3 separate regions of the Homo sapiens genome follow, and regions 2 and 3 are each linked to region 1. The links come from fine-mapping of genetic effects on gene expression. A gene starts in region 1. Each other region holds a variant in brackets. All regions are shown on one strand. Distances are from middle to middle.

Region 1 (10,397 bases):
CCCTTACATTTTGCAACCACCTTGGCCATCCTGCACCTCTATGTCTTACCAACTATAGTTAAGAATCACAGAAGTGGTAGCTATGATAGCAATTTCATTTCATTTCCCTCAGCACTTTTCCTTTCCTCTAAGACAATTTCTTAGGGCCCTGTGCTGTCCATGACAATCATACACAGTCAGGAACAGTCGTAACGGCTCACATGTATTGAGCACTTACTCTTTTAAGCATTACGCTAACGGATTTACATAATTATAGTTTTTACATATTTAAATCATATTGCATTAGCCCTCTGACATAGATCAGGGGTGTCCAATCTTTTGGGCCCCATTGGAAGAAGAATTGTCTTGGGCCACACATAAAATACACTAACACTAACGATAGCTGATAAGCAAAAAAAAATTGCAGAAAAATCTCGTAATGTTCTAAGAAAGTTTACAAATTTGTGTTGGGCCACATTCAAACTGTCCTGGGCTGCAGGTTGGACAAGCCTGATATAGATGCTACTATTGTCCCTGTTCTGTAGAAGAGGAAACTGAGGCTCAGCATGCCAATCTTCATCTCATCTTGTTCTCATACTTTGGGAAGAACTCCTTATCCAACAGTAAAGCTTCAGGGATCCAAAGTTTATGAATGGTCTTTTTTAACAGCTGGGAGGTAAGGAGGGATAGCAGGAGAGAGAGAGGGCATACGCTAATACTCTCTGATCTGGGCTTTTGGAAGAGTATTCTTGATTCCTTTGGTCACAAAATTCACACAAGGTGTAGCTATACTATTGTTTTGCTGTGGCACAGGATTTAGCCAATTCTTACCCTACTGTCTTCCTGGATTTCCCAGTCACTGGAGAAAGTCGCCAGCTGCTGCCCTTGCGAACAGTTTGAAAACTGGAAAAGGCTAGAAAACATCCTTCTGTTCTCTTGAGTGTCTGGGAAGATGGCATCTTGGAAATTGACTCCGTGAGGCAAGAGGTTATAATTTTCATCCATCCTAATGGAGGAAAAAAAGGCAGACATGTAGGCTAGACAGTCAAGGGTGTACCAGCTCCAATCCAGAGTCACAGACAACTGCAACGGGCTTGCCAATTTCACATCAATGTCTGGCATGGCTCTCATTAGAGGAGTTACTACTTCTAATTATTTCTTTGTCTCACGCTACATCAGTCTATCCTTAAGGTTTTCAAAAAGATGAGTTTGAGCAAAGTATGGAGAAAACTATGTGTATGGTGCCTGTTTGTCTATTTGTGTTGTCTTCCAAGTCCCCCAAGGGGTCTTCCTTCTCAAAGAGTGTTCCTTATTTCCTGGTGAAAAAAAGGCCAGCTGTCATCACCTATGTTTAAGTTCTGTCTTTGCTATTTATCTTCTGTATGACATGAAACAAATGTCTTAACTCCTCTAAGCTTCAGTATTCTAATCTGCAAAAAGAATATAGTACTGGCTAGGTGCGGTGGCTCACACCTGTAACCCCAGCACTTTGGGAGGCCAAGGCAGGTGGATCACCTAAGGTCAGGAGTTCGAGACCAGCCTGGCCAACACAGTGAAACCCTGTCTCTACTAAAAATACAAAAATTAGCTGGGCACGGTGGCACACACCTGTAATCCCAGTTACTCAGAAGGCTGAGGCAGGAGAATCACTTGAACCTAGGAGGCGGAGGATGCAGTGAGCAGAGATTGCACCATTGCACTCCAGCCTGGGTGACAAGAGTGAGACGCCATCTCAAAAAAAGAACATATATAAGTAAAAAATAGTACCTACTTTTCTGGTGATGTCATAAGCATTGCATCAAAAACCTAAGTAAATGAAGCACTTGGTACAAAGTAAATGCAGTATGCATGTTAGTGAACACATTTAAAGGCCTAGCATTAATCAATTAGAATGATTCTTTAAAATGTCACAAAAAGAAAGAGATGAAAGTTACACTCCAGTCTACAGAAAACACGTAGGGCTCACCAGCAAGTCTCCGTTGCCACCCTCACCCCTGACAGTGACCACAGGTCCAGTTTCATCTCAGTGGGTCCCAGAATAACAGAGAAGGAATGATTTGTGTGTAGTTGTTAACACACTCCAAGGCAAGACAGCCCTGTGAAATGAAAATGTCAGACTACTGTCTTTGTATTTCTGCCCTAACTTTTGTAAACATGGTAGAGCAAAAAAGATGAGAATTGGCTGAGCACCACGGAACTATTGGACAAACTGTATTTCATGATAAAAATTTCTTTAAAAAGCCTGCTCAAACACTTGGGCTCTTTTTCCTTTGGAGAACAAAGTTCTGGTTTTGAATAGTTTTATAGATGGTTTCTCAGTATCTTTCCTAATTAAAAACATGAAACCCTAAGTTTCTCTGTATCGAGAAGGGCACTCTCTCAGTCTCACTGGCTTTATTTAGAAACTACACTTCTCTGGAAATACATACATATATATAAAAACTTAATCTAGCTGAACCACTCAAGCCAACACAAAGCAAGACGTGTTTTTTAAACTTAGATATTCTGGCTTCAATATGGAAAACATGTGTTGCCATGCACTTACAAACACCACTTTGTAGAACTGTTTTCTTTCTCAGAGAAATGCGAGCTAAAAGTGAATCTGCAGACCCACGTCAGCCTCATTCCAAATATCCTCAGTGCTACTTCCCAGACTGGGAAAACGAACTACAACCGATCACCCCAACAGTGGATTAATTTACTATCTTGATAGATAGGTTAGATTCCATTTTGATGTTTTTCTCAGTTGTTTTATATCACTCTCCAAATTCCAACTGAAGCTAACCAAAGAATTTAGAGTTCTACCTGGCACTCTCTATTCAAATTTCAGAAGAATTCAGTAGTCAATGAGAATTGACTGAATTCTTAGGCAGATGCATTCCATCTTGACCACAGGCCAAGTTCTGAAGTTCATGGAACTTCAGAAGATTCCAGTGGTCTATAATCAAAGAGGACCTCCTGGCCTGGTTCACCTCTCCACTCCTCAAAGCATTGCTACCCAGGATTTTACCAGCAGCAGAACCCCAAGCCCTAGTAAACCTTTGCTATTTCAAAGAACCTGGCAGCTGATATGAGACAGTGAAGCAATCCCGGGCTACATTCCACACCATTCACATCTTGGCATTTGAGCAAATGAGGAAGAGGAGAGAGTGGACAGCTGGTCAACTTCTAACCTGCACCAGGTGCTTTGCATGAGTTACGTTCCTCACTCAACCAGCCCTGTCTCTCACTTTACACAGGTGAGGCTATGGAAGTTCTTGAGAAGGTGTCAAGAAATGCGCTCAGAATCACGGTTAGGAAGGGCAGAGCCAAAATGCCAGCCACAGACTGATTTCAAAGATTGTTTTTCTCACCGTCCCAATCTACTCCCACTGAGGCCAGTTTAAAAACCCAAGTCAAAGGGACTGTTGGAGGGCGCTTTGAGCTTCTGTCTGCAATGCTCTTCTGTGTACAAGGCACAGAAACCTTCCCTGTCTTTTAAACCGCCTTAACCAGGGGTAGTCAGGATGTCTGTAGAGACGTCAGACGGAGCAAGAAAGATCCAAGAAGGCAAGGGGTAGGCGCCCCAGGGGCATTCTCACTTGACACCGACAGGCTGCCCGGGGAGTTACCGGCCTGGCTCTAGGTAACGGCGACCTCGGGAGGTGGCGCAGAGAGAGAGAGAGGTGGCGGCGGCGCCGCCGGGCTCACCTGAGGAAGAAGAAATAGGAGTAGTCCTGGACCACGGTGTGGGAGTGGCACGAGAAGTAGCCCAGGCCGGTGAGGTTGAGCCTGGAGCCGGCGGGCACCTCCAGCATGCTGCCCCACGCCTGGTCGCACAGCATCTCGACCTCGGCCGAGTAGAAGAGGCCCCCCTGGCCGGCGTGGTACTGCCAGGGCAGGTGGTTGTAGAGGCCGGGCGCCTCGGGGTGCAGCGCCAGCACCCTGGCGTACACGATGGTCTCGGCCAGCTCGGCGCGGCAGCCCTCGCTCAGGGGCCTCCACTCGGAGGGCAGCTGGCAGGCGCGCGCGGGCGCTGGGGGACCCGCCAGGCAGAGCGCGGCGAGCAGCAGCTGGCGCAGCATGCCGGGCCCTCCCGGGGCGCACGGGGCGGCGGCGGGGAGCCCGGGGAGCCCGCCGGCCCGGGAAGGGCAGCCCTGGGCGCTCGGCTGCTCGGGCCGCTCCCGGGAGCTGAGCGCACCGCTGTCTCCGCCACGGGGCTCGGCATGCCCGGCCCTGGCGCGCCACGCTTTAAAAGGGTCCCGGGGACTGGACGCGCCGGGCGCCCGCCTCCCGCCCTGCCCCCTGCGGCTGGGGCGTGGGCGGGGGAGGGGCGGGGAGTCGGGCGGGTCCCGGCGCCGGCTGGGGCGGGGACCAGGGACTCGGAGAACGCGGGGACGCCGGGACCCAGCCCTGAATTGGGGACAGTGGCCCAGCAATCTCCTGGCGCCCCACGATGGACGTGGTCCGAGCTTGCCAGGCGTAAAGCCTGTTTGCAAACGCAAGGCATTCATTAAAGAATGACTCTTAATTTGCACGATTACTGCCTAAGTTTTTACATTTTCTCTACATTTCAGAGTAAAAATACATAGAAACCAAATCTGACTTTATATTCCCAGAGATTAGGAAATTCAGTGTGGGCTGAGATCTCGTGCTCTCTCAGATTTGCTAGTTATTTAATGAAGATCTTAGAAAAGCTTTGATAAAAGATTCCAAAAAGCAATCATTTGGCCCTGATTTTCTTGGTTTCCATAATCCCTGATTCCATTTTCTAAACACTGTACACCTGAGAAATACATTCAGAAGTAAATCCCAAACAGCTTTTCACATCAGTGAGTGAATTTGAGGATACTGACTCCACAGTTCCATCTTTATCTCTAAAGGCAACAGGTTTTTTGTTTTGTTTTTTGTTTTTTTCTTGAGACAAGGTCTATATCTGTCACCCAGGCTGGAGTACAGTGGCTCCATCAGGGCTCACTGCAGCCTCGACCTCCCCTGGGCTCAGGTGATCCTCCCAGGTCAGTCTCCCAAGTAGCTGGGAATACAAGCACACTGCCACCCCGGATAATTTTTTGTTTTTAGTAGAGACAGGCTATGTTGCTCAGGCTGGTCTCAAACTCCTGGGCTCAATCGATCCTCCCACCTCAGCCTCCCAAAGTGCTGAACTTTCAGGCGTGAGCCCCCACATCCACCCTGAATATTTAAATTATGCAATTTCATAATGCTATTAGTCTCCCAGGGCTGCCATAATAAAATACTCTAGTCTGGTGGCTTAAATAACAGACCTTACTTTCTCAGAGTTTTGGAGGCAGGAAGTCCAAGATTAAAGTGCTAGGGTTGGTTACTGGTGAGGCCTCTCTTCCTGGCTTACAGACGGCCACCTTCTCACTGTGTCCTCACGTGGCCTTCTCTCTGTGTGTGATGGAGAAAGAGTGAGCCCTGGTCTCTTCCTCTTCTAACAAGGTCACTAGTCCTATGGGGTTATCACCCCACCCTTATGTCCTCATTTAATTACCTGCCTGAAGACCCTATTTCCAAATACAGTCACATTAGGGAGTTAGCACTTCAACATATGAATTTGGAGGTGGGAGGGGAGACATAATTCAGTCTATATGAGCTATTTAGCAGGTGTTCTGCAGGTTTGCTAGAGAAAGAGAGCAGGGATCCCAAATGGTTTATATTCCTGGCAGGCAGACTCACAGCACACACTGCCAAGTTATAATAAGAATTGCTAAACCTTAGTCATTGTTGACCATGGGCCAATCACTGTTGTAAGGACTGTACATATGTCATCTTAATAAATTCTCCAAACAATATTCTGAAGTAGATATAACTATTATCCTCATTTTACAGATAACAGGCACAGAGAAGTTAATTGACACCAAAGATCACAAAGCTACAAGTTGACCAAGCTAGGATTCAGCTCCCAGCAATCAGACTCCAGATCCATGTACTTAACTACAACACTAGAATAGGGCCAAATATAGGAAATGCTCTAAAGACACAGGTCGGCCCTTTAACCAGGATATACACAGAGCAAATTAAGAGAAAACCTTAGCAGAGTCACCAATGATGGCTCAAGGAGTGTGCAACTGACCTAACATTAATTTTGTATGACCCAGAATCCCTGCTCTATTTTAGTCCTATACTGTAACTCATCAGATAAGATAGTAAGAAAGTTTTTCTTACTAACTGCATCTTCAAGTGTCTTGAAGGCCTGGAAAAGATTTGTCTACCCCAAAAGACTGTAAGGCCCTCTCTTTTCTTTCCACATAGGTGAGCAAATAAATAAAAATCAGCAAACATGGCTGTTTTTTCTCTTGTTGTATAAACTTGACAGAATCAAAACTCTTCCAATACTTCCCACAGTGTATTTTGCAGAAGTGAGCACCTGCAAGAAATCGTCCTCATGGATTCAGCAGACACATCAGTCATGCTTTTCTCCCCTGTAAGATCTGGCAGAGTGCCTCACTGATTGGGTTTCTCTTCCTGATTGAGCCATTGCAGTGTACCGTAGTGAGCAGTTCCTCTTTGGGGACTAAGACTTCCAAACAAGCAGAGCTCAAGGTAGCCAGGAGGGGAAACAAAACTTCTGTGAGTGAATTATTGGGTTTAATAGTGACATGAGCCACTTCCATCTCTTGATTCCGAGACCTATATGTCCTGGCTGTGGGGTGGATAGTACCGTATATGTATGTTCTGTTTCAAAGCACACACAGTAAGTACACTTTAAGATGGACTCCATCATTTCAGTGTGGTGACTCCCAACTGACACTATAATTAAGTCTTCACTAAACTGTTACATCCTTCAAAATTTGTCCAGTTGCTTCCAGGTGATGGGACATGTGGTAAAACCAGTTAATTCTATGGCCTTGAGACCACTGCTGCACTTCATTGCTGTGAAAGAAGCAATGCTGTGGGAATCATTGATCAGAAACATCACTATGGGAAATTCCATGATGGTGGATAAGGTGCCCCATGAGTCCATAGATGGTGCTACTGGCAGAAGCATTATGGCAGGGAAGGCATATCCGTGTCCAGAATGTGTCTATTTCAGTGAGGACAAATCTCTGACCCCCACCCCCCACCCCAAGATGGAAAAGGTCCGATGGAATCAACCTGCCACCAGGTGGCTGACTAGTTCCCCAGGTGAATGGGGCCACATTAGGGGATCCATGTTGGCCTCTATTGTTGACATATTAGGCTCTCAGCAGTAGTAGTAGTGTTAGCTAGGCCAGCCGTGGTAAGAGGAAGTCCACATTGTTGAGGCAATGAATACCCTCTGTTTCTGCCACCATGGCCACTCTGTTTATGGGCTCATTGAGTAAGCAGTAGAGTGGCCAAGAAAAGAGACTGACAGACACCCACTGAGTACATCAATTGCCCACCTAATCACTAAGAACTTCCCCTCCACTGAATGCACTTTGGTCATCATTCACATGGGTCACAAATATCTTCACACTTGGTAACCGTTATAAGATGTCCATTCATTCACCTCTTCCCAAGATGTCCTTGTCATCAATCTTCTGATCCTATTTCTTTCAAGTCCCTAACCATCAACCAAACCACTAGCAACTGCCCACGAATCAGTGTCCATGTGTACTCCCAGCCCTCTCTTAGTCTAGACATAGCATACAACAAAATCTGCTGCTCAAAGTTCTATCGACTGGGAGAATTTTTCTTCACCAGTGTCCTTCAGGATCACCCATGAGTGAAACTGAGTAATATCTGTGTGTAATACAGAAAAATCTTCAAACCAGTCTTGTTATTTCTTCCTCATTCAACTGGAGTATCTTCAAGAGGCCATAAACCATATGAGTGGAAGAGGCAACGTACCTTCAGAGTCAAAGGAATCTAAGCCACTTGCCCATGCAACTTGCTTGCACCATCTGGACCTGCCCAATCCCAGTCTCTTGGATACCATTTCCATTTAATGGTAGATTGCTGCTGCGCACACATGGCCTTATGTCTAGGAGGGTCATACAACACCCAATTCATGATGAGAAGTTCAGATTACATAGTCACCCAGCATACCATGGTTAGGCATTCAATCTCTACCACAGCCTAGTAGCAAGGGAGATGCTATTTTTCAAAAGGCAAACAGCCATATCCAGAATAAGGCATAGATGTGCACTAAAACCCCAGAGTTTTGTGCTGTGATTTTCCTTCTGGTGCTTTCTAAAGACTCCATACAACATTCCTGTTTGCCATAAATACTTTATCACTGGACCTTCTAGATAATAAGGCTCAAGTGATACAGTGACTTGTACACAGCCTGAACTTGCTGCAGAGACTTCTCAGAACTTGCTCAACACCACTTGAAACTGGCAGCCTTAGAGATAACTCTATAGATGAATTCAAAAAGCATTTTTAAATGTGGCATATGTTCCCTCCTAAATACAAAAAGGCTGAACATACATTCTCCCTCTTTTCCCATTTAGATCATCCAAGGACCAGCAACTTTCCTTTTGCCTTGGAGGAGTGACAATTGAGCCCCCAGAAACCATACTGAGGTGGCAGGTCCCTGAATTTTTGTGGGGCCTATCTCCCACCTTATATCTTACCAAGGCCTCTAAAGTATATGGTGTTTCATGAACATCAGATCCATTCATCATACTGTCATCCATGAGGTAATCCAATGTGATGTTTTGTGGAACGTCAAGACAATCAACATCTCTGCAGAATAAATGTGATAGAGAGCAGGAGAATTGACATAGCCTGAGGCAAAACTGAAAGTATACTGTTAGCCCTGACAGGTAAATGCAAACCGTTGCTGGCAATCCTTGCAAATCAGTGAGGAGAAAAGGGCAGGTCAGTAGCTACGAAGCAAATGCTGGGAGACATATCAATTTGCTCCAGGAAAGATACTACATCTAGGACAGCAGCTGGAATTTTAGCCACCACCTCATTAAGTTCATAGTAGTCTTCAGTCATTCTTCAAGACCCATGCAACTTTTGCACAGCCCAACTGATGAGTTCAGTGGAGATGTGATAACTATCGCCACTTCTTTCAAGTCTTTGATGGCAGCATGGATTTTTGCAATCCCCTCAGGGATGCAATATTGCTTCTGATTTATTCTCTTGGTAGAAATGAAAGTTCTAGGAGCTTCTGCTTAGTCCTTCCAACAATAAAAGCCATCACCCATGGGTCAGAGAGAAAATGTGGGGGTTTGTCAGTTGTCAACTTTGGTCCCTTTGGAGAAGTCTTAGAGGAGGATTTATGGTGTGTGCATGTGGCAATGGTGCAGGGTCCTTCCTCAAGGGCACCTGGCTTACCTTTCAGTCAAAAGGCTCTGTGTCTATAAATTTACTTATGTCTAAAAGCTAGGTAAGGGGCTTCAGTTCCTCTCTGTGGGAATTCAAGTCAGGTTTTCAGCTACCAGAGTTTTTGCTGTTACATAGATCAGGCACTACACCCACAGGTTGCCCACATATTTACTTTCAAGAGACATCATGATCAACTATCCACTGTCAAAGATCTCTGCCAATCGAAACATTCTGATTACTAGTATGCCCCTCCCGACCTTTACGGTAGAGGTACTTACCTTCCCTTTGGCAGTTAAGTGCTGCCGTTTGACCCCTTTTCGATGGCATCATCCTGTACTAGAGTCATAACTTTTCTAGAAAGAGGAGAAACCACAGAGATGTTCAAGGATGCAGTACTTCCTTCATTAATATATTTCTCATTGCTGTCGTGAAGGAAATACCTCTGGGTCATCTTGTGGAATGTAGTTGGCAGGTGGCTGTGCAGGTCACACATCGAGTATTCAGTTCAACCTTCCTAATTCCCTAAGCCTTTGGATTCCCTCCTTTACATTGTTTCAGGGAAGCTCTGGCATCTCAGCCAGCATGGAATTCCTTCAAATTGTAGTCAACCAATCAAGTAAGCTATTAGAGTCACCTCTAGAAGTATATTAAATTTATACTCTCAAACGCATCAAAACAATAAATTTTGCCAAAACTAGTATTATATTCTGCCCACTTTGGTTCTGCCTGGAGTCTGCTGATATATATAGGCAGTCTTGCAATTTCTTTAGTGTCTGGGCTATTTCCTCCTGGATTATAGTGTGTACCTGTCTCCCGGAACATGCTGAGCTTTTACCTTGGTTATACCACTAGTTGAACTTAATTATGACTACAATTGCCTTATAAAAGACACTTCTGAAGCAATAATGGAGCTACCCTCTCTTAAAGATAGACCAAGTATGGTCAAATATGTCCTTTCTTCCCAAAATAATTTTTTTAAAATCCTAATACAAAATAGTGGAAAATATTTTAGTTATGTAAAAAATATTTTAAGTTATTCATGAAAAATAAATGAGTGAGTTCTTCTTCTTTCTTCTTCTCTATCTCTTCCTGAAAAACTCCACTCTAAAAGTCTTTAGCTGGGGCCAAACAAGTTAGGTCTCCAAGCTGGGGCAGGATAAGAGATGGAAGAG
Region 2 (10,397 bases), 150 kb before region 1:
GGTTGAAGAAGCTGTAAGTGAGCTTTCTACTTTCCAGAGGCAGGCAGTACCAAACAGCCTTTCCCAGACGGGGGACCCCATGAATCTCTCACCAGAGACCCCACACAGGCACCTGGGTTAGAGTGCATGGAAGAGTTCTGTGGAAACGCTGTCTGGGATCTAACACCACCAGACATTGTCCAGCCATGTCTCATCACAAGCCAGAAACTCCCCCTGCTCCTCAAGCTGTCCCTCCCCCACATCAGCCACAGAGGGGGAGACTGGAGAGACTGGGTGGTGGTCCCGGATGTGCCACTAGCGTGCTATGTGATCTTGCATAGTTCATTCCAACTTTGTCCTTCTGTGTCTCACTCATATAATGAGGGGTTTGACAACAAGATCCCTGAGGTACCTGCTTGCTCTTTAAAATTCTCTGGCACCCAGACACAGCCCAAGTTCCAGTGAAAACTGCACTGAGGTCCAAACCCCTGCTGCATTTTGCTCTTTGCCTGGAAAAGGGTGTTGCCGTGTCAGCCATACCCTGTTTACTTCCTGAGAAACATGGAGAAAAGTCTCCCTTGAATCTGTGAATTTCAGGTTTTTTCAGAGTTGGATCCCAGCCCGGAGCAGGGAAGAGCGTGAGGTAAAATTGTTCGAGTCGTCCAGAAATGCACATTTCCTGCAGTTTCTTTCCAAGTCTGGTGCTAAATGAACAAGCTCGAATGTGAACATGAACAAGGATGACTCAGGCGTAGAGAATGTTGGTAGCACGACACTGGCTGTAAATAATGGCAATGAAGGGACTTTTCTGACCCATTTGTTGACAAAAGATGGTAAGAGGTATTAATCTAGTTCAGGGATATCTAAACAGTTTTTGTTGTGCATCCTTATGATAAAATATTTTTGAACATTGTGCTCTGAATAGATGAATATTTATATTTCTGGAAATTATAGGCATATACTATACCTACTTATGAACATATAAAACATACACAAAGAAAGAAAATTAGAAGGACAAGACCAAGATAAAAGAAACTGTTCAGTAGAACAAAATGTTTATCTTTGTTACATTCATGTCATCTTGGGTTTTGTTATTTTTATGTTTTTGTTTGTTTGTTTCTTTGTTTTTTTGAGACAGACTCTTACTCTGTCGCGCAGGCTGAGTACAGCGGCGCAGTCTCGGCTCACTGCAACCTCCGCCTCCTGGGTTCAAGTGATTCTTCCACCTCAGCCTCCTGAGTAGTTGGGATTATAGGCAAGTTTTGTTATTTTTTTAATCGTGATTTAAGACTTTGTAATACAGCAATTTGAAAACCTGATTTCAAGTCTAGTTTACTTAAATTTTTTTTTTTTTAAGAGACGAGGTTGTTCTGTCACCCAGGCTGGAGTGTAGTGGTGCAATTATAGATCACTGTAGCCTCGAACTCCTGGGCTCAAGTGATTCTCCCATCTCAGCCTCCCTCATAACTGAGAATACAGTTGTGCATCGCCACACCAGCTACCTTCTTGGGTTTTGTGCTGTTGTAATGGAAAAAGTCATAACGCAAAAATACATATATCTAAATGAAAGAAGTCTATTTTGGAGGTGCTTTTCATTAGGGACATGAGCATATGCAAATTGGAAACTGACAAGGTTGAAGGTAGGGATTTCACAGGTGCTTCCTTCCTTCTCTCCCATCTCCTCCATCTCCTCCTCCTACCCTTCCTGCCAAGGATCTTTGTACCCCTCTAAATCGTGTTACATAAACAAGTAACTGTGACCCATGTTCAAACAGTTCCTCCAAAGACCCTATTTCTCTGTAACACAATGAGTTAATGTTTATATTTAACTCTTAATAAAGACCTAAATTTTTTGAAAACTCATAAATGAATGGAAAATATATACCAGTGTCTTTGTTTTGGTTAGGCAGTCTTAGGAGCTTGGAGCTTCAGACCGCTAGAGCCATGGTTCTCAAATTCTTGATGAATATGGCCCCTTTCCATGGAACACAGCATCTTAGTGATTGGAACTAACAAAAGACACTGCAAAAAGTTTTCAAAATGAATTATTAAAGTGCATCTGTATCTCTGTAATAATTGAGTAATAGTAATACATGCATGTGATATATTTCTGTGTTTCTTTCAATTTTTTTTTTAGAGATGGGGTCTTGCTATGTTGCCCAGGCTCGTCTTGAACTTCTGGACTCAAGCTATCTTCCTGCCTCTGTCTCCCAAGAGGCTGGGATTACAGGCACATGCCACTGTGTCTGGCTTGTATGTGATATATTTCATCAATCCTCAGATAAGACTTGGGATACTTAGGGATTAGGCAACCCTGGCAACCACTCCACAACCCTAGACCATAACCAAGATGCCTTGAAGACACTCCCCTAGTGGGAGGGAAAGGACTTAGGAATGAATATCCAGACCTCTTAGTGATTGTTTTGAAAACTCAAACCTATTACTTGGTGACCAACCTTATACTAACCTAAGAGCCATATGCTAAGGCAGGCATGGTGAAATTGTCAATCTTTTTCTAGCTCCAGTCTGCATGACGATTGATGCTTGTGACCTCCTAGGGCAAAAAGTGAAATGAGGAGAGAAAATGAAGAGATGCAGATAAAATGCTTACACAGTAAAAGACCCATCTGCGGGGTAACTGAGGCGCAAGGATGTCCGCTAGTGCAGTGCTTCTAAACTTAAACCTACATGGAAAATACCTGTGTATCTTGATAAAATGCAGATTATGACTCAACAGATCTGGGCTGGGGCCTGACATTCTGCATTTCTAGAAGCTCCCAGGAGATGCAGACGCTGCTAGTCCAAGACCATATGCCCTGAGTAAGGAGGCCCTATCCCGTGTGCATTCTCAACTGGGAGTCCAGTCTTCCTTGAGCCTGTCTCCTTTTGCTGACAGCAACCAACGGGTGTGAGATCTAAGCAGAGGCTGGCTTTGGTGAGCTACAGGGAGTAGCTAATGATCAGATTAGCTGCCCAGCCAGATAGCAGCACCTCAGTGTCACTTCCAGCCTAATGTCATGGCACCTTTGGGTTAAGTTTCTTTCAGTCTCATCCTCTCTGGGGACGGACGGAGCAGTCAAGCCAAGGAGGAGCGGTTCTCGTGGGTCCCACAGCGCCCCCCGCTGGCAGGAGGACACTCCAACGGGAGACCAGTCTTAGGGTAGAGGCGCAGCTGAGTTTCTGGCTGAAGATGAGGGCTGGAAGCAGGTGAAGCCAGGGAAGCAGCCCCTCGGCATGGGCTGTTGGCACCTAGCACGCCCACTGAGGCTCCTCATGGAACGGAAGTCCCTCTGTGACTGGAGCTACCAGTGTCACAGCTGTAGCAGGGACAAGCGGCTCAGGAGTGCCCAGTAGGGCTGGTTCCAGCAGAATCTGCACCTGTAAGGTAAGACCGGGTGGCCATTTCTTTCAGGCCACCATGGCTTCTCCCCATCATCTGGTTTGAGGAAATCTAATTTCTGTGATTCCAAGGTGATCTCCTGGCCCCTACTAACTTCTATTGTCTTAAAAAGACAGGCGGGCGCAGTGGCTCACACCTGTAATCCCAGCCCTTTGGGAGGCTGAGGTGGGCAGATCACTTGAGGTCAGGAGTTCGAGACCAGCCTGGCCAACATGGCGAAACCCCGTTTCTACTGAAAATACAAAAATTAGCTGGGTGTGGTGGCGGGCATCTATAATCCCAGCTACTTGGGAGGCTGAGGCAGGAGGATCACTTGAACCCAGGAGATGGAGGTTGCAGTGAGCCAGACCGCGCTGCTGCACTCCAGCCTGGGCAACAGAGCAAGACTCTGCCTCAAAAAAAAAAAAAAAAAGAGAGAGAAAGATGAGTCTATTCTCTGGCAGGGCCTCCCTTTAGTAGTGATCCCCTCCACTGCAGGGGGGAAGACTGTAGACATTAACCTTGGTTAGATCAGAGCAAGACACCCCCACACCCCAGAGACAAAGGGGTGTGAACCAGTCTTTCTTAGGGGAAATGAGATGGTTTTGAAAGTTTCCTAAAATAGCTGTGAATTAGCTTGTGATGCTCTTAAAAGCGTCCTCCCACAGATTCCCACGTGGAGCGAATGTGCTAGGGAATCATTTCAGGTTAATTTCCCTGTTCAGGAAGAACAGGTGTTCTCTTGTCCCCTTCTCACCCTGGCTGTTTGGCTACAAATCTAAATAGTGGAGTGGGAATGGGAGGGGCACGGCAGCAGGGACCGTGACAATTTTGCCCACCATCATCGTGTCCCCCACGTACAGGTCAGCATTGGGTAACTATTTTTTGGATGAATTACTGAGTCAGGGGATGGAATGGTGGCAGCGGCTCTTACCCGGCCGGCCTCTGCCAGTCCCAGATCATGGATGAAGACAGCTGATCCCCCCCAATGCCGCTCACCTCTGGGCACTTCTTTCCAAAGCCCAGGTGTGTGGGTGCTGGCTGTCCCAGCTGCAGCTCCTGTTCCCTTTGTCTAAGCTCTGCTCCCCTGCTGACCACTCAAGGCCTTAAACTTGAAAAGGTCTTGGTTCTGAGCTGAGCCTCCCATCCTAGCATTGAAGAGCCACAGTGGCTTCTGGGAAATGGCTGGAACCCACTTAGCACCACCGGGGACAGGATTCTGCCAGCCTGTCCTGGACCTTGCCTGAGCATCAGTGAAGCCCACCCCACACCAGGACAGACCAGTCTTGAGGTTTGGCCATGCCTGGCCACTAGCAGTCTTTATAACCGCTTCAAGGGGCAGAGTTCCAAGTCGATTTAATCAGAAAGACTTGCAGATGTTTCCTTTCAGCCGGCTGATTGTGTGCATTCAGGATGCCTAGCAGAACGCCGGGGGCTTTGGGGACCCAATTAAGAACACGCAGGGTTTGGGGG[G/T]ATCCGGTGTCTTCATCCGGGATCTGGGACTGACAGGGGCTGCTGGTTAAGAGCCGCTGCCCCTGTTCCATTCACTGGCTCAGTAATTCCTCCAAGAGATAGTTAGCTAGTGCTGACCTGCACACCGGGGACATGATGGTGGTGAGCAAGGGGGAGGGCGAGCTGGAACAGAGGCTGTGCGGGCAAGGAGAGGCGTGGGAGAGGAGGCACTTCCTGCCAACCTCTCGAGACTTGTTGGTGATTTTGAGGCCCTGAGGAGGGTCTATTCCTCTGAGAATGAAACGCAGTAATGAAAAGCCGTGAATCAGGACCTGGCTCCAGGAGGGATGTGTTCTGGCAGATCTCTCAGGCCTGAGCGGCGGGCTGGTGAGAGCAGAAAGAGAAGCTGTTCATGGTTATCACAGAAAGCCATCTAGCACACATTCTCCCCACCGTGCCTCGCCCATCCCTCCCTCCCTCCTTCCCCCCATGCTTCCTGGTGGGAATTCATCTTTGCTCTGGAACCCTGTGCTGAGCTGAGCTCAGGCATGAAACTCACATTCAACCTGCCAGATGCTGTGTTTATTCTGGCACCAACCATGAGCTCAGGGAGCCTCCTTGTCTGCTTCTCTGTGGCCCAAACACCTGCCAGCTACATGGCTATGTGAAGGCAAACCTGAAGCTAAGGCCCACAGCCCTGTGGCAGGGTTAGCAAGGTGGCCCAGCAGCCAGCCTACCTGTGCGCTACTTCCCATCTGCTCCCAGTTCGGGAGGGAGGAGAGGTGGTGAGGGGAGGACCCTTCTCATTTCTTGTTTTAACTCCTCCAATTTGGCTGAGTCTTCTCAAGGGCTTAGCTCAGTGGTATCAGCCTTGGCTGCACACTGGAATCGCCTGTGTGGTCCCCTGGTTCTGATTGTATCTGTCTGGGTGCGCCCTGGACATTGGAATATCTAAGCTTCTGCAGGTGATTCTAATGTACAGCAAAAATGGATACCACTGGTCACTGAAGTATTTATACATCTGACGAGGACTAAATAGCCTGACCCTAGAGCGCCCACCTTCCTCATCTGGCTTATTCAAAGCGGGAATGACCTGGAGAAGAAAGATTTAATTAGGATGTTTCTGTCTATGGCTCTGCAGAAACTGTCTTTGTTTTTTCTCCATGTTCTTTAAGGGAAAATCCACCTGCTGATTGCTGTCTTCTAAGCAGGGAATTTTATTTTAAATTATAAAACAAAATTTATCTGGCCGGGCGCGGTGGCTCACGCCTGTAATCCCAACACTTTGGGAGGCCAAGGCGGGTGGGTCACGAGGTCAGGAGATCGAGACCATCCTGGCTAACACGGTGAAACCCCGTCTCTACTAAAAATACAAAAAAAAAATTAGCCGGGCGTGGTGGTGGGCGCCTGTAGTACCAGTTACTCGGGAGGCTGAGGCCGGAGAATGGTGTGAACCTGGGAGGCGGAGCTTGCAGTGAGCCGAGATCGCACCACTGCACTCTAGCCTGGGTGACAGAGCGTGACTCCATCTCAAAAAAAAAAAAAAAAAATTATTTTAATTAACTTTAAAATATAGAATGATAGAATTGAGAATATGTTGAAAAACTAGCCACTCCTGATTTCTTTCTTTTTTAAATTGTTATTTTTATTTTACATTCAAGGGGGTACATGTGTAGGTTTGTTACAAGGGTAAATTGTGTGATACTGAGGTTCTGTTGATCCCGTCACCCAGGTGGCAAACACTGTACCCGGTAGGAGATTTTTCAGCCCTGACCTCCCTCTCTCCTTTTGAAGTCCCTAGTATCTGCTGTTCCCATCTTTATGTCCACATGTACCCAAGATTTAGCTCCTACTTAAAAGTGAGAACATGCAGTGTTTGGTTTTCTGTTCGTGTGTTAATTTGTTTAGGATAATGGCCTTCAGCTGCATCCATGTTGCCGCAAAGGGCATGATTTCATTCTTTCTTATGGCTGCGTAGTATTCCATGGTGTATATATACCACACTTCCTCTATCCAGTCTACCATTGATGGACACCTAGGTTGATTCCATGTCTTTGTTGCTATTGTGAATAGTTGAGCAGGGAATTTTAAAACACTGTTGACAGAAATTATGTATCCCAGATAGGGTTGTCAGATAACTAATACAGGGTGCCAAGTTAAATATGATTTGAAAATAATCAATGAAATTTTTTAGCATATCCCATGCAATATGTGGGATATACTTATACTAAAACATTATTTAAATTTAACTAGGCATTCTATATTTTTATTTGATAAATCTGGTGACTGTAATAGATATGTTAATCAGAATAATATTATTTTGTTACATGTGACAAAAACCCTACTCAAACTCAAAGTGGAGAAAATAAATTTATTGGTTTACATCACTGAAAAGTCCATGTATTTAGGCTGTATTTAGATGTATCCAGGGATCTCTCTTCATCTCTTAGTTCTTCTTTTCGCCATCCAGGTCTTTCCAAATATACGGCAAGAAGGCCTCTAGTGGCTCAGGCCACAAGGCTCTAAGGGCTTATGACCCCAGTAGAAGAGAGAAAATCTCTCCTACAAAAACAGGGAAGACTGGTTTTTCTGGCTTGAGTCACATGTCTACTCCTGAACCACTGTGCCCAAGGAAATTGGGTACAGTAGATCTCCCATATCCATGGATTCCGCATCCCTGAATTCAACCAACTGCTGATTGAACATATTTGGGGGAGAGCTGGGTGCGGTGGCTCACGCCTGTAATCTCAGCACTTTGGGAGGCCAAGGCGGGCGGATCACCTGAGGTCAGGAGTTCGAGACCAGCCTGGCTAACATGGTGAAACCCCATTTCTGCTAAAAATACAAAAAGCTTAGCCAGGCATGGTGGTGTGCGCCTGTAATCCCAGCTACTTGGGAGGCTGAGGCAGAAGAATGGCATGAACCCAGGAGGCGGAGGTTGCAGTGAGCCGTTATCACACCATTGCACTCTAGCTTGGGCAACAAGAGCGAAACTCCATCTCAAAAAAAAACAAATTAAAATATTTGGGGGGGAAGGAATTCCACAAAGTTCCAAAAAGCAAAACTTGAATTTGTACACACTGAGTACTACATTGAATCCATGTGAATGAAGAGATGTGTAGGCATTGTATTAGGTATTGTAAGTAATCTAGAGATGATTTAAGGCATACAGGAGTATGTGTGTAGGTTATATGCAAATACTATGTCATCTTACATCAGAGACTTGAGTATCCTTGAATTTTGGTGTCTGTGGTGGGGAGGGGGTGGGACCTGGAACCAATCCCCAGATCACATAGTCAGCATTGTAATAGACCAGGGTGTGGGTGGTTTTCTAAGGGAAAGAATTTTGAGCAACATATGTCTACTACATCCTACAGAAGAAGAGGAGATGCTCTTCTTACTCATCTCAAACATGTGCACAAGTATTGCCTAAGAAAAGGAAAATCTAAATTAGGAACATCTGTGAGATCAGAGTGTGTGGCTCCCCAGGGGAGTCTATAATGGACCTGCGTGGTTTCTCAGTTCTTCTAGCAGGAGAGCACCCAACACCTCACCCAGCTGCTGACCCAGTGAAGTCGTCTGCATGTAGAAGTCTTTTTTTGAGATGGAGTTTTGCTCTTGTTGCCCTGGCTGGAGTGCAATGGCACCATCTCGGTTCACTGCAACCTCCACCTCCCAGGTTCAAGCAATTCTTTTGCCTCAGCCTCCCAAGTAGCTGGGATCACAGGCACCCGCCACCACACCAGGCTAATCTTGTATTTTTAGTAGAGACAGAGGTGCACCATGTTGGTCTTGAACTCCTGACCTCAGGTGATCTGCCTACATCGGCCTCCCAAAGTGCTATAATTACAGGCATGAGCCACCGCACCTGGCCACAACTTTTTTTTTTGACGGAGTCTCGCTCTTTCACCCAGGCTGGAGTGCAGTGGCGCTATCTCAGCTCACTGCAAGCTCCGACTCCCGGATTCATGCCATTCTCCTGCCTCACCCTCCCGAGTAGCTGGGACTACAGGTGCCCGCTACCATGCCTGGCTATGGTTTTTTTTTGTATTTTTAGTAGAGACGGGGTTTCACCATGTTAGCCAGGATGGTCTTGATCTCCTGACCTCGTGATCTACCCGTCTTGGCCTCCCAAAGTGCTGGGATTATAGGTGTGAGCCACTGTGCCTGGCCTTTTTTTTTTTTTTTAATATATATATGTATGTATTTTCATGTTTATTTCTTTTATATATATATATATTTTATTATACTTTAAGTTCTAGGGTACATGTGCACAATGTGCAGGTTTGTTACATATGTATACATGTGCCATGTTGGTGTGCTGCACCCGTTAACTCGTCATTTACATTAGGTATATCTCCTAATGCTGTCCCTCCCCCATCCCCCAACCCCACAACAGGCCCCAGTGTGTGATGTTCCCCTTCCTGTGTCCAAGTGTTCTCATTGTTCAATTCCCAGCTATGAGTGAGAACATGCGGTGTTTGGTTTTTTGTCCTTGCGATAGTTTGCTGAGAATGATGGTTTCCAGCTTCATGCACATTTACACCATGGAATACTATGCAGCCTTTTTTTTTTTTTTAAAGAGAGATAGGAAGCTAGGCATGGTGGCACTTGCCTGTAATCCTAGCTACTTGGGAGGCTGAAGCACGAGAATCACTTGAAACCGGGAGGCAGAAGTTGCAGTGAACAAAGATTATGCCGCTGCACTCCAGCCTGGGGGACAGAGTGAGACTCTGTCTCAAAAAATAATAATAATAAAAATAAAGACAAACAGGGTCTCACTCTATCCCCCAGGCTGAGTGCAGTGGCACAATCATAGCTCACTGCAGCCTTGAACTCCTGGGCTCAAGTGATCCTCCTGCCTCAGCCTCTTGAGTAGTTGGGACTACAGGTGGGCGCCACCATGCCCAGCTAGTTTTTTTGTATTCTATTGTTGAGATGGGCTCTCCCTGTGTTGCCCAGGCTAGTCTCCAGCTCCTCAAACAATCCTCCCATTTTGGCTTCCCAAAGCGCTGGGGTTTCAGGTGTGAGCCACTGCAACTTGCCGCTTTGTTGAATGTTCTAAGTTGCTGAAAGGATGAGGGAGACATCTCCATTATCCTTTAATCTCAGTTAAGTAAGTCAGCATTCCTACTTAACATACATCTCAATCAGGGGTATATAGCAGACTCAACTTTTTCAGAACAAAGTTGCCTGTCTCATACTTCAAGACATTCTGATTGAGAAGGTAGAGATGGAGGGCTAGATTGGAATATGTATATTTTGGTTTTTAAAGAACCCCACAAATATTTCTCATAAACTGCTATCTACTTCCCACAGTTATTTCAGAAATTAGTTCTGAAATACTTCTCTCCTATTGCTTAGAATATCAATACGAATTCTGCAGCAACAATGCCTGTGGTTTGATGTCAATGCCTCCTCACACCATGGCATACCACAATTGTATTGCGAATAATTTAGTATAAATATCAGCCAACCTAACGTTGCCTGCTGCTAACCAATTTTAATCTCATATTTAGAAATACCTTTGTGCACGCACAAAAAGACTTGGAAAAGGAGGTTTCTTTATTAAAAGAGGTGGTCCCCT
Region 3 (10,397 bases), 99 kb before region 1:
CTGACAGCAACACAGACCCCGATTCCCCACCCCAGCATGGGCATAAACCCCAGGATGTCCTTGACGGTGACATTCCCCGCCCTCCACCCTGTGAATCCTGCCCTGGCCTCAAATACAGAGCCCCCGTTTTGCTTTCCATACTTGGCTTCCTTGGAAGATGTCGTTTTCAAATGATATTCTGAATATTTGTCATGCGTAGCAAAAAGGAAAGAGCCCCGCTTTGGTAGAAGACCAAAACCAGAAATGCACACAGAAGGTGGACAGTTCCGGGAATGGGGGGAGTCAGGTGGCCTAATTAACAAAGGCTGAGCCACTTACATTCGCGAAGGCTCTGATCAATGCTGGCCTGTCCAACTGAAGGGAGGGGTTCCCTTCAGCAAAAACAGACTCTCTTTGCTCCCTTTAGCTGGGCTGGCCAGCACACAGAAGGTGGATAGTTCACAGGAAAGAAAACGCCAGTATCTCTTAAACGCATGAAAAGATGCTTAACCCCACTCATAATAACATAAAAAAAACAAATGAAAGCCATGGTGAATTACTATTTTTCACATATTAGATTGGCAAAATTTCAGAGTCAGGATTTGGGAAAACAGGTGCTATCATACTGTCAGTAGAGTGTTGACATCTATAAAGACCAATCTGGCTCTGTCAAAATAACTGCATATACCCTTTGATCTAGTAATTCTGGGACTATCTCAGATAAATACTCTCATATGTGCAAGCTGCCACATGTGCAAACATTATGGCATTATTATATTAAAAGATTGGGAACAAAAAATACCCATCAAGAGAGGTCTGGTTCCATAAATTATAGTAAATCTACACAATGCAAAGGTTTGCCGTTTTTAAAGGAACAAGACAGCTCCGTGTGAATGGTGGTGTAGCAATGTCTAAGTGGTGTTCATATTGAAAAGCTGTGCAGAACAGTGTGTATAGTGTGATACCAAGAGTGCGAAATACGGTACCCATCTGTGTCCGTTTAAATATGCATACACTATCTCTGGGAGCATATGCAAGAAACGGGTAAGGGTGGCCATATCCGGGGAGCAGAGAAGACAGGAAGAAGAAGATTCATTTTCACTTTTGTACTTTTTGAATTTTGTATTTCATAGGTTTGGCTGTGTCCCCACCCAAATCTCATCTTGAATTCTAGCTCTTATAATCTCCATGTGTCATGGGAGGGACCCAGTGGGAAGTAATGAAATCATGAAGGTGGGTTTTTCCTGTGCTGTTCTTCTAATAGTGAATAAGTCTCAAGAGATCGGATGGTTTTAGAAAGGGCAGTTCCCCTGAACACTCTATTGCCTGCCATCATGTCAGACATGACTTTGAGCCTATTCACCTCCACCATGATTGTGAGACCTCCCCAGGCATGTGGAATTGTGAGTCCATTAAACCTTTCCTTTATAAGTTACCCAGTCTCAGGTATGTCTTTATTAGCAGTGTGAGAACGGATTAATACAGTAATAAGGCTGGCATTTCCTTTATATGTGTGTGTGAGCATATATATAAAAAGAGGTATTCTCCAATCTTTCTCCTTTCTCCCATTTTACCTCATCAGAAGCTACATTCCCAAAGAAAGACTTGAGCCTCAACTTTCCTCTGCTTAGAAATCTCCATCATTGAGCCGGGCTGGGTGTGGTGGCTCACGCCTGTAATCCCAGCACTTTAGGAGGCTGAGGTGGGCGGATCACAAGGTCAGGAGATCGAGACCATCCTGGCTAACAGGGTGAAACCCCATTTCTACTAAAAATACAAAAAAAAAAAAAAAAAAAAAAGCCGGGCGTCGTGGCGGGTGCCTGTAGTCCCAGCTACTCGGGAGGCTGAGGCAGGAGAATGGCGTGAACCTGGGAGGCGGAGCTTGCAGTGAGCCGAGATCGCGCCACTGCACTCCAGCCTGGGTGACAAAGAGACACTCCATCTCAAAAAAAAAAAAAAAAAAACAAACTCCATCGAGCCCCACTATCTACACTGCAATATGATGGTGATGGGTGAAGAGCTCAGACCCTGAGGCCAGGCTGCTTTGGTTTCCAGTCCTGCCTCTTCCACTGACGAGTGACCTGAGACCTTGGGCAAGCTTCCTAGGCTCAGAGTAGTGGACTCTGGTCTGTATTAGCCAGAACCCACTTCAGTACTAAAGGATTGATTTCCCCAGCTTCTTGGAGTGCTGCAGACCGATAGCCGATAGCCCTAAGCTGAGTCTCTCTCCGGAAACTGACCCTGACCTAAGAGAACTGCCCAAGGTCACGCCCCCTTCTTTGGAGCACCTGTATCCAAGGACTGGCTGACACCAGGGTATGAAGACCAAGGCCCCTCATCCCAACTTGGAAGATCTCTGAAGGGCGGTCCCCATTGCTGGGTGTCCTGGGGTAGGCTACAGCCTTTGTTGAGACTGGATCACAGGCTGATGTCTGCCTCCGCCTGTTCTTGTTCTTTTCTACCCAAGGTATTAATCCCAGGAGCATTCTTGAAAACACCACCTATACCTCTTACATTATTTTTTCTTTTCTTTTCTTTTTTTGAGATGGAGTCTTGCTGTGTCGCCAGGCTGGAGTGCAGTGGCGTGATCTTGGCTCACTGCAATCCTCCACCTCACGGGTTCAAGCGATTCTCCTGCCTCAGCCTCCTGAGTAGTAGCTGGGACTACAGGCACGAGCCACCAAGCCCGGCTCATTTTTTGGTATTTTTTGTAGAGATGGGGTTTCACCATATTGGCCAGGATGGTCTCGATTTCCTGACCTCGTGATCTGCCCGCCTCGGCCTCCCAAAGTGCTGGGAGTACAGGCGTAAGTCACTGCACCTGGCCCACCTGCACCTCTTATTCCAAAGTCTACGTCTCAGGGAACCTGGCCACTCTCAGTGGGATGATCATGGTTGTTGGGAGGATTTCATGAGTTTTACTTGAAAAATGTTTAGAACCATGCCCTCGTGCACAGTAAACGTTCACTAACTGTTAGCCGTGATTATAGGATAGAGTCAAATCTCCTAAAGCCTTTAACTTTTGTGATTGGACCCGGCCAACATCTCCAGTCTTAGTGTTCTTCCTTCTGTTCCCACATTTTATACCCAAGGCACACTGGGTCCCACCCAGCTCTTCCTCCAACACATCAGCGCTTTCTCATCCCAGAGGCTCTTCCTCCCGCCTGGAGCACTGTTCTCCCCATCTCCGCCTGGCCATCTTGGAAGCCCTCTGTGGTCCCCTTTCACGATGCTTTCCACCGGGTCTCCCTGTGTATGTAATGTGTCCCCCTCCCCAGTCTCCATGGCACGCCGTAGCTATTCACACCACACGCCAAGTACCTGGTGGCACTAGGAGAATGTGACTCAAGGGCCTTGACATTCACAAGTCACAAGCTCCTGAAGGCCTGGTTCACAATGGTTTTTGCATCCTTGCTGCCCTGGCCTTTTTAGGCCTACAGTTAAGAAAAAGGAGCCAAGTGGAATGTTCCAATAATACCTGTCATTTAATGAGAAACTCTGGGCTCCCGGGGAAGCTGCTGTTACAGGGGAGACCATATGTGCAACACTGCCCTCTTCTGGCCAAAATGAGACCCCCTCAAAAAGATGAGAAGGTGGGCATGAGAAATTCCCGGGAGAACTGACAGTATTTCTATTGTCTTGTGGATAGATATTAGCTATGGAACTTAGGCTTTAATATGGCCAAGTACCAGGCTGAGCACTGTATAATGACACTCCCTCATTAAGTCATGAGTTTTCTACAAGTTATGGTAGATTCTTCAACCAAGAACAAGACAAAAAAGTCCAAAGTCCATGACAACAAGAGGATTGGGGTTTTGGAAGACTGCTTGCTCGAATTTTCAAAGAACAGAACCCAATAGTGGCTGGAACATAACATCAAAGAAGAGTTGAAGGCAGGCTCGATGGCGGTGTTCAGAAGCTGCGTTTAAAAATCGTGAAAAATAGAGGAGGATGCTGGGACTTGAGTGATCACGTGTTAAGAGTTCTTTCTAAGACACAACACTCTTCACAGTTAGCCCTCGACCATGGACACAGCTGTTCTCCAGGCTAGCAAGAGGATGAATTTCACCTCCAGCAAGACTTAGAGCCCAGACAAAAGGAAGACCTTGACCCAGGCTGTAAAAACCAAGATGGAACAGAGGGACGCCTTGAAGTGCATCTGTGTGTGTATCCGGAGTGGGAGGATCATTGAGATGGGAATGATAAATTCCCAAGCAAAGGTGAATGTGAAAAGCGTGGATGGGATGAGAGTTCCTTGGTGAACATGTCATTCTTTGGTCCTCGTGGCCTCTAATATGGGTAGGGTTTCAGTAGGAGCAAAAGACATCAAAGGACTCTAGTAACGTATCCAAGACAACCAACATAGCACAGCCATGACCCAGGACTGCTTAGCAGGCAGGTCTGTATCTCTGCAGCAAAGTGGGCCATGCCTCTGAGTAGGGGGAGCCTGTGTCATGTGAATTGAGGCTAACGCCATAAAATAACCAAGCCACTGCTGATGGAGCCGATGGAGCCCTCTGGCATCCCAGCTATCACCTCAAAAGAAAATCCTGTGTTTAAGAAAGCAAGAATTTCTAGAGGAGAGCTGTGCTTTCCAAAATGTGTGTTTCTTTAAGAAATGCTTTCTTTGGAATGCTTTCCAAATGAAATCCATCTCCTTTTAAAACTGCTTTAAAAAGAAAAAAAGGTCCAGATACGCTATTTGCTCAATTTGCTTTGTGGTATTTTTTGGTAAACTGAGAAGAGCAGGGAAAGGCCAGGCCAAGCTGAAACAGGTACTGCCATATTTTCTTTGAAGAAGAACCAAAGAGAATGTCCTACAGGGCAGCCCCAAAGCAACAGACTCCTCATAGGCAGGCCCCGCTCAGGCCTGCAGCACTCAGCGCCTCCCAGGTGCTTGGGTACCTCTGGCATTTGCCTGCCCAGAGCTTTTCTCTGGAAGTTTCCATGTGGCCAATAGGATGCCTGCCTAAGGGCAGATGGGAAGATTGCCCTGGGAGCCTGCTCTTTTATTTTCGAAAAGACAAAAGTTAGGCTGGGATATCCATACTTCCTTATCTGTCTAAAATAACACTTTTTAAAACCATCAAAGCACACTGATTGTAGAAAAAACATTTTTTAAAAATATGGGACCAACAAAAGGAAAATCAAAATCATCAATGATTCTATGGTACAGAGATAATCACTGTGGACATTGTAACATTTCTTCCTAGTATTGTTCCTACGGGTATAAATAGATAACTATTTCAAAGAAAACTGGAGTCCTGCTGTTACTCAGTTTTCTGTTCTAATTTTTTCCCCTTTTCATTTTATCATGATTCTTTTCCAGTCATCGGTCTGTACACTTCCCGTGAGTATTTCATGGGAGCTGGAGGAGGGAGCATCTGGTGGTTCCACTTGGCCACGAGGACTAACTCACTAGGCAAGACTGGCTCACTAGGCCGGGCATGGTGGCTCTCGCCTGTAATCCCAGCACTTTGCGAGGCTGAGGTGGGAGGACTGCGTGAGCCTAGGAGTTTGAGACCAGCCTGGGAAACACAGGGAGACCCCATCTCTAAAAAATAAAAATAAAAAATAGCCCGGCATAGTGGTGCACATCTGTGGTCCCAGCTACTTGGGAGGCTGAAGCTAGAGGATCACTTGAGCCTGGGAGGTGGAGGCTGCTGTGAGCCATGATTGCACCACTACACTCCAGCCTAAGTTACAGAGCAAAAGCCAGTCTTAAAAAAAAAAAAAAAAAAAAAAAGACTGGCTCAGGCTCACTAGTTATTAATCCTCCTCTATCCTTAGGACCACAGGCCAATGGGGAGGGATGGCAAGATGGGGTGCTCATGCATCCATGAGATTGAGTGGCCTTAATGTGGCCTTTTTGGGTCACCTGTCTCCAGTGACGGGACAAATCCGTGGAGAGCTCTTTACCCGGAGCCTCCACCTGAAGTCTTCCTATAAGTTTCCTGGTTTCTCCGGGAAGCTCAGGTGTGAGAAAGTTTCACCATCAACATCTTGAGCAGTTAAGGAAGTATATCCATGATACCATCTAGAATCACCTCTCATTTCCAAAGCGTTTTGGCTTCCATATGTTCATTCATTCTGGCAAGAAGCATTTATTGTGTGCCTGGCACTGTATGGTGCAGAAAGTCCCCCCCAGTTATTCTGGAATATAGCAAGTTTGTATCAAGCTAAACAAAAAGACAGTATGTTTTTTTAAAAAAATATCTCATGGCACCAGACATGCCAAAGAGTCACCGAGAGGATTCTTGCCTTTCACAGCTGCTTTTAATTTAAATAACCAC[G/C]TATAAAGACAAGACAAAGTGTACTTTCTGAAACGTAAAAATATAAAGGAAGAACAGTCCAAAAGCAACAACACAGACAAATAGCTTGCTTTTTTAACACTTTGTTCCTGTTCTCGGGATTCAAAAATGAGAAGGAAGAAAAAAGAAAACCCAGAGCAGTGATCAGGAAACGATGGCCTATGGGCCACATCTGGCCCCCTGCCTGTTTTTGTGAATAAAGTTTTATTAGACCACAGCTATACTCATCAGTTTATGTTTTGTTTGTGGCAGCTGTTGTGCTGCAATGGCAGAGGTGAGTAGCTGCAACGGCTGCTTCCACAAAACCTAAAATCTGGCCCTTTACAAGGAAAAGATGCTGAATCTTAACCTCAAGAGGGGCTCAAGGCAAACGCAGGTGGGAATAGGATGGGTTTGGAGGGCAGCTGGTCTACAGGCAAAGAATGGATGAAGGGCAAAGGGTTTGAAAAAAACACCTGGTGCCAGAGACGCCCAAGAACCTCACTGTCCACATCTCACCCCTTTCCCACCACTTTCAGACATTGTTTTGTGATGATGGCTTTGGCTGCCAGGTCATGGTTCAAGGTCTCCACGATCCTTGTCAAAGGTCCTATTGACTCCATCTCAATGTACTGCAGCCAATTTCAAACCTCCAGGTGGAAATTAACAAACCAGCTCTTCCCAGCACGACTGACTGTTTCTAAAATGCATCCCTTGACATTGGACAGATGAGCCTAGAGCAAGCCCCTGTGCCCTGCTTGGGAACATCAACTGTCAGTGTGGATAAGGGTCTGCAGGGGATTGCTCTAGTCCCGCAGTTGGCCGGTTAATTCTGAAAAGTTTACATGGCGCTGTGTTTTCTGGCCCCGTAGAGGGCAGAGGCCAAGATTCCTTCATTATCCACATGATTCAGGGACTCTGGGGAGCTTGATGGGAAGCCCATGGGCCTTTACCCACGTCCTCCGTAGTGCCTTTTGGCGTTTTCCATAAACAGGTTGGAAATGCAGCTTTGTTCTCCCATTCTTTAAAAGCCTTTAGAGATAGAGATCTATGAGGAGGTGGGCAGAGAGCCACGTCCACGCAGAACGGTTTCCTGAATGACTCGACAGGACCACACTGGAGGATGCCCAGAGCTGCTGAAAAAACTCCCAAAGCTGGGAAGTGACAGCAGGGAAGTTCTTCTGAGGACTGTCTGGAGGGACAACCTGAGATGACTGCATGTGGCTTGGCAGCTCGTTCTCTGCTCCACCCAAAGTCAAAAGAGCTGCTTCCCTGGTGCCAGGAGCCCAAACAAAGGGAACGCTCATGCCCAGGCTGTGGCGGGAGGGGAGGCAAATGAAGAGGAAGGCGGAGATGGAGTCAGGGAAGAGGCTGGGGCAGGAGTTTCCTTTCCATGAGGCAGCACCCGGCCTAGCTGGGCAGGGCCACAGCAGCCTCTCCTGCGTCCGCTTCCTGATGCTGCCGGGGGAGGAGGTAGCCGGGCAGTGTGGGTAGGAAGGGGTTTTGGACTCAGGTAACTCTGGGACTGAATTCTGGCTTAAACGATTCCACACTCCACGTACCCAGATACCTGTTAGAGTCCACAGGTCAGGGAGCCCACTCAGCCCCACCATCGGACAGTGGGGTCTTGCTTAAGTCAATGAACCTGTCTTGGCTCAGTCTCCTCATGTATACAATGGGCCTAATAAAGCCTCTTCCCTAGAACTGCTCTGAAGATGAAATCAGATGATAAGGGTAAAGCATCTGATGTAGCACCTGGTGTAGGGTGAAGGACACACAAAGCTTTTGTGATTGTCGTTCGCCCGAGCTTGACCTTTGCTGCTGGAACTCCTCCTCCCTCAGCATCCTAGGTCCTCTTGAGTGTCTGTGATTTTTTGCATCTAATTCCTTCCACTAAATCTCTGCTCACACCTTAACCAAACGATGACATTCTACTTCTTCTCCAAGTCTTGGTTCAAGAGTCACCTCCTCTGTGATGCCTTCCTGGTTCCTCCTGAAGTCTTCCTATAAGGAAGAGCCCTGTCATCTTTTCCTGGTTCCATTGTCAAGTTTATCGCATGGGGCTCTAACTGTTGGCTAGCCTGACTCTCTCCCAGACTGAGTCCCTTGAACACAAGGGCTCCATCTTTTCATTCTTGCATCCAGCACTTAGCATGCAGTAAGCACTTAATAAATGGATGAAGGGATGCAGGTTGAAATAGAAGCAAGTCATTTTCAATGACTCGAAAATGAAAAACCGGTGAAGAAGCTGGAGCTACCTTTTAATGCTGGAGCTGGATTCACCATCTTCCCTGTGAAGCCCCATTTCCCAGGAATAAAGTTAGTTTTGCCGGGTGCAGTGGCTCACGCCTGTAATCCCAGCACTTTGGGAGGCTGAGGTGGGAGGATCACTTGAGGTCAGGAGTTTGAGACCAGCCTGGCCAACATGGCAAAACCCCATCTCTACTAAAAATAGAAAAATTAGCCAGGTGTGGTGGTGCACACCTATACTCCCAGCTACGCGGGAGGCTGAGGCAGGAGAATCGCTTGACCCGAGAGGAGGAGTTGGCAGTGAGCTGAGATCGCACCACTGCACTCCAGCCTGGGTGACAGAGCAAGACTCTGTCTCAAAGAAAAAGAAAAAAGAAGATTAGTTTTGACGATTTGTTCTGGTAAGATCTGGGAGCTGGATTTAAGGAGCCCTGAACTTGGTGCCTTTTCCTTACTTTCCTTTTCTCCCTGCCCCCACCTGCCCGCCCCCTGTTGACTAGCTTATTTTGTACATCCCCATACCAAATCCCTTAAGAATTGCAGGATGTGACGCAGATGAGGAAAAATCCATTCTAGAGGGGAGATGCTAGATGATGGAAAACCTGGGTAAGTGCAGGAGAAGGGATCACATTTCAGAAGCTGGGGCCAGGGCCAGCCCTGCTGAGAGTTGGAGCGCAGTAGCAGCTGGATGTGGGAAGCAGGGGGACAAGATCTTAAATGGCCAGGGGTTAAGTCCTGCTGATGGCCCATGATTAAAATCAGGAAACATTGAGCTGTCTTGGGTGAATTGCCTGCCATCAGAGGAAAGGGGAGTTTATTAGCTAAGTTCTACTACAGAGATCATAAAGCCACGTCTTCAGATAAATCTACTACAAAGGTTTCCCAAAATGGAGTCTCCAGGACACTCGTCTCATTAGATGTTTACGTGGGGACCAAAAGGGTGGTTCTGGTTAAAAAAGTTTCAGAAATGCTGCATATTATGGCTTCCTCTGTGATGTAACACTTAGTATCAGCTGTGCACATTGGTCCTGCATTAAACCTCTCTAACTTTGTTTTACCCCAGATCTCATCGGTCTCTGGTGGAGATCTCCAACATGCAGCAAGAATAGACTACAAGAGTGAGTGTCAAGGCTGCTCAGTTACGAGCGGTCTCCTGTGTTTCTCCCAGGGAGTTTTGCAAACATTTTATCTAGTCTGTGATACAAAGAAGCCTGGGAAACACTAGGTCATGGAATACTGATTTCAACTCTAAATCCTTTTTCTAGAACTACCAAGGGGTAGAAGGGTGCTGAAATCACAGATTCTTGGCTAAGAACTGTGATTTTTCTTTTTTTTTTTTTTTGAGACAGAGTTTCCCTCTGTTGCCTATGCTGGAGTGCAGAGGTGTGATCTCGGCTCCCAGGTTCAAGCAATTCTCCTGCCTCAGCCTCCCAAGTAGCTGGAACTACAAGTGCATGCCACCATGCCCGGCTACTTTTTGTATTTTTAGCAGAGACAGGGTTTCACTGTGTTGGCCAGGCTGGTTTCAAACTCCTGACCTCGTGGTCCATCCGCCTTGGCCTCCCAAAGTGCTTGGGTTTACAGGTGTGGACCACGGCGCCTGGCCAGAACTGTGATTTCTTAATGCTGACCACTGTCCATGGTGAGTGCAGAGAAGGTGTCCAGGTGTAGTGGGAAGGAAGATGTTCTACTTTTATTTTCAGGATCCCAGAAAATCCACATCACAGTGGATGGGGCTCTGGTCTAGATGCAAGGCTCCATCTTCCTGGTATCCTTGGACACTCATGGTCCTGTGAGTTACAGCATCTGAAAGACATCTTCCAACCTTGGATGCCTCTGCTTGTTTAGTCAAAGCCTCCTTGGGCACCTCAGTCCTTA

Alleles and levels. Positions count from the first base shown, and alleles are read on the strand shown. Sizes are in standard deviations (SD) of each study's normalised expression. Not every link is listed here.
With allele G in place of C in region 3, the expression in fibroblasts of the gene that starts at base 4,186 in region 1 is higher (small effect, 0.28 SD a copy in GTEx).

Evidence for each region.
Region 2: its variant is fine-mapped to the expression of CCDC3 in whole blood (TOPMed, PIP 0.99).
Region 3: its variant is fine-mapped to the expression of CCDC3 in fibroblasts (GTEx, PIP above 0.99).

The regions. Positions count from the first base shown.
Region 1 is chr10:12,997,528-13,007,924 of GRCh38, forward strand. It overlaps CCDC3 (coiled-coil domain containing 3), which reads right to left and starts at 4,186. Exons shown (of 3, transcript NM_031455.4): 1 at 3,670-4,186; 2 at 811-985. The coding sequence starts at 4,043. RefSeq lists enhancers at 3,315-3,815, 3,816-4,316.
Region 2 is chr10:12,844,669-12,855,065 of GRCh38, forward strand. No RefSeq gene overlaps it. Among named protein-coding and RNA genes, the nearest start is that of MIR548Q, 120 kb to the left of the region's middle. RefSeq lists an enhancer at 4,489-4,988. The variant G/T (reference allele first, on the strand shown) is at 4,832.
Region 3 is chr10:12,898,767-12,909,163 of GRCh38, forward strand. The region is part of intron 2 of CCDC3 (coiled-coil domain containing 3); the gene reads right to left. It overlaps LOC105376418 (a long non-coding RNA gene), which reads left to right and starts at 9,033. Exons shown (of 3, transcript XR_001747367.3): 1 at 9,033-9,125; 2 at 9,583-9,637. The variant G/C (reference allele first, on the strand shown) is at 6,273.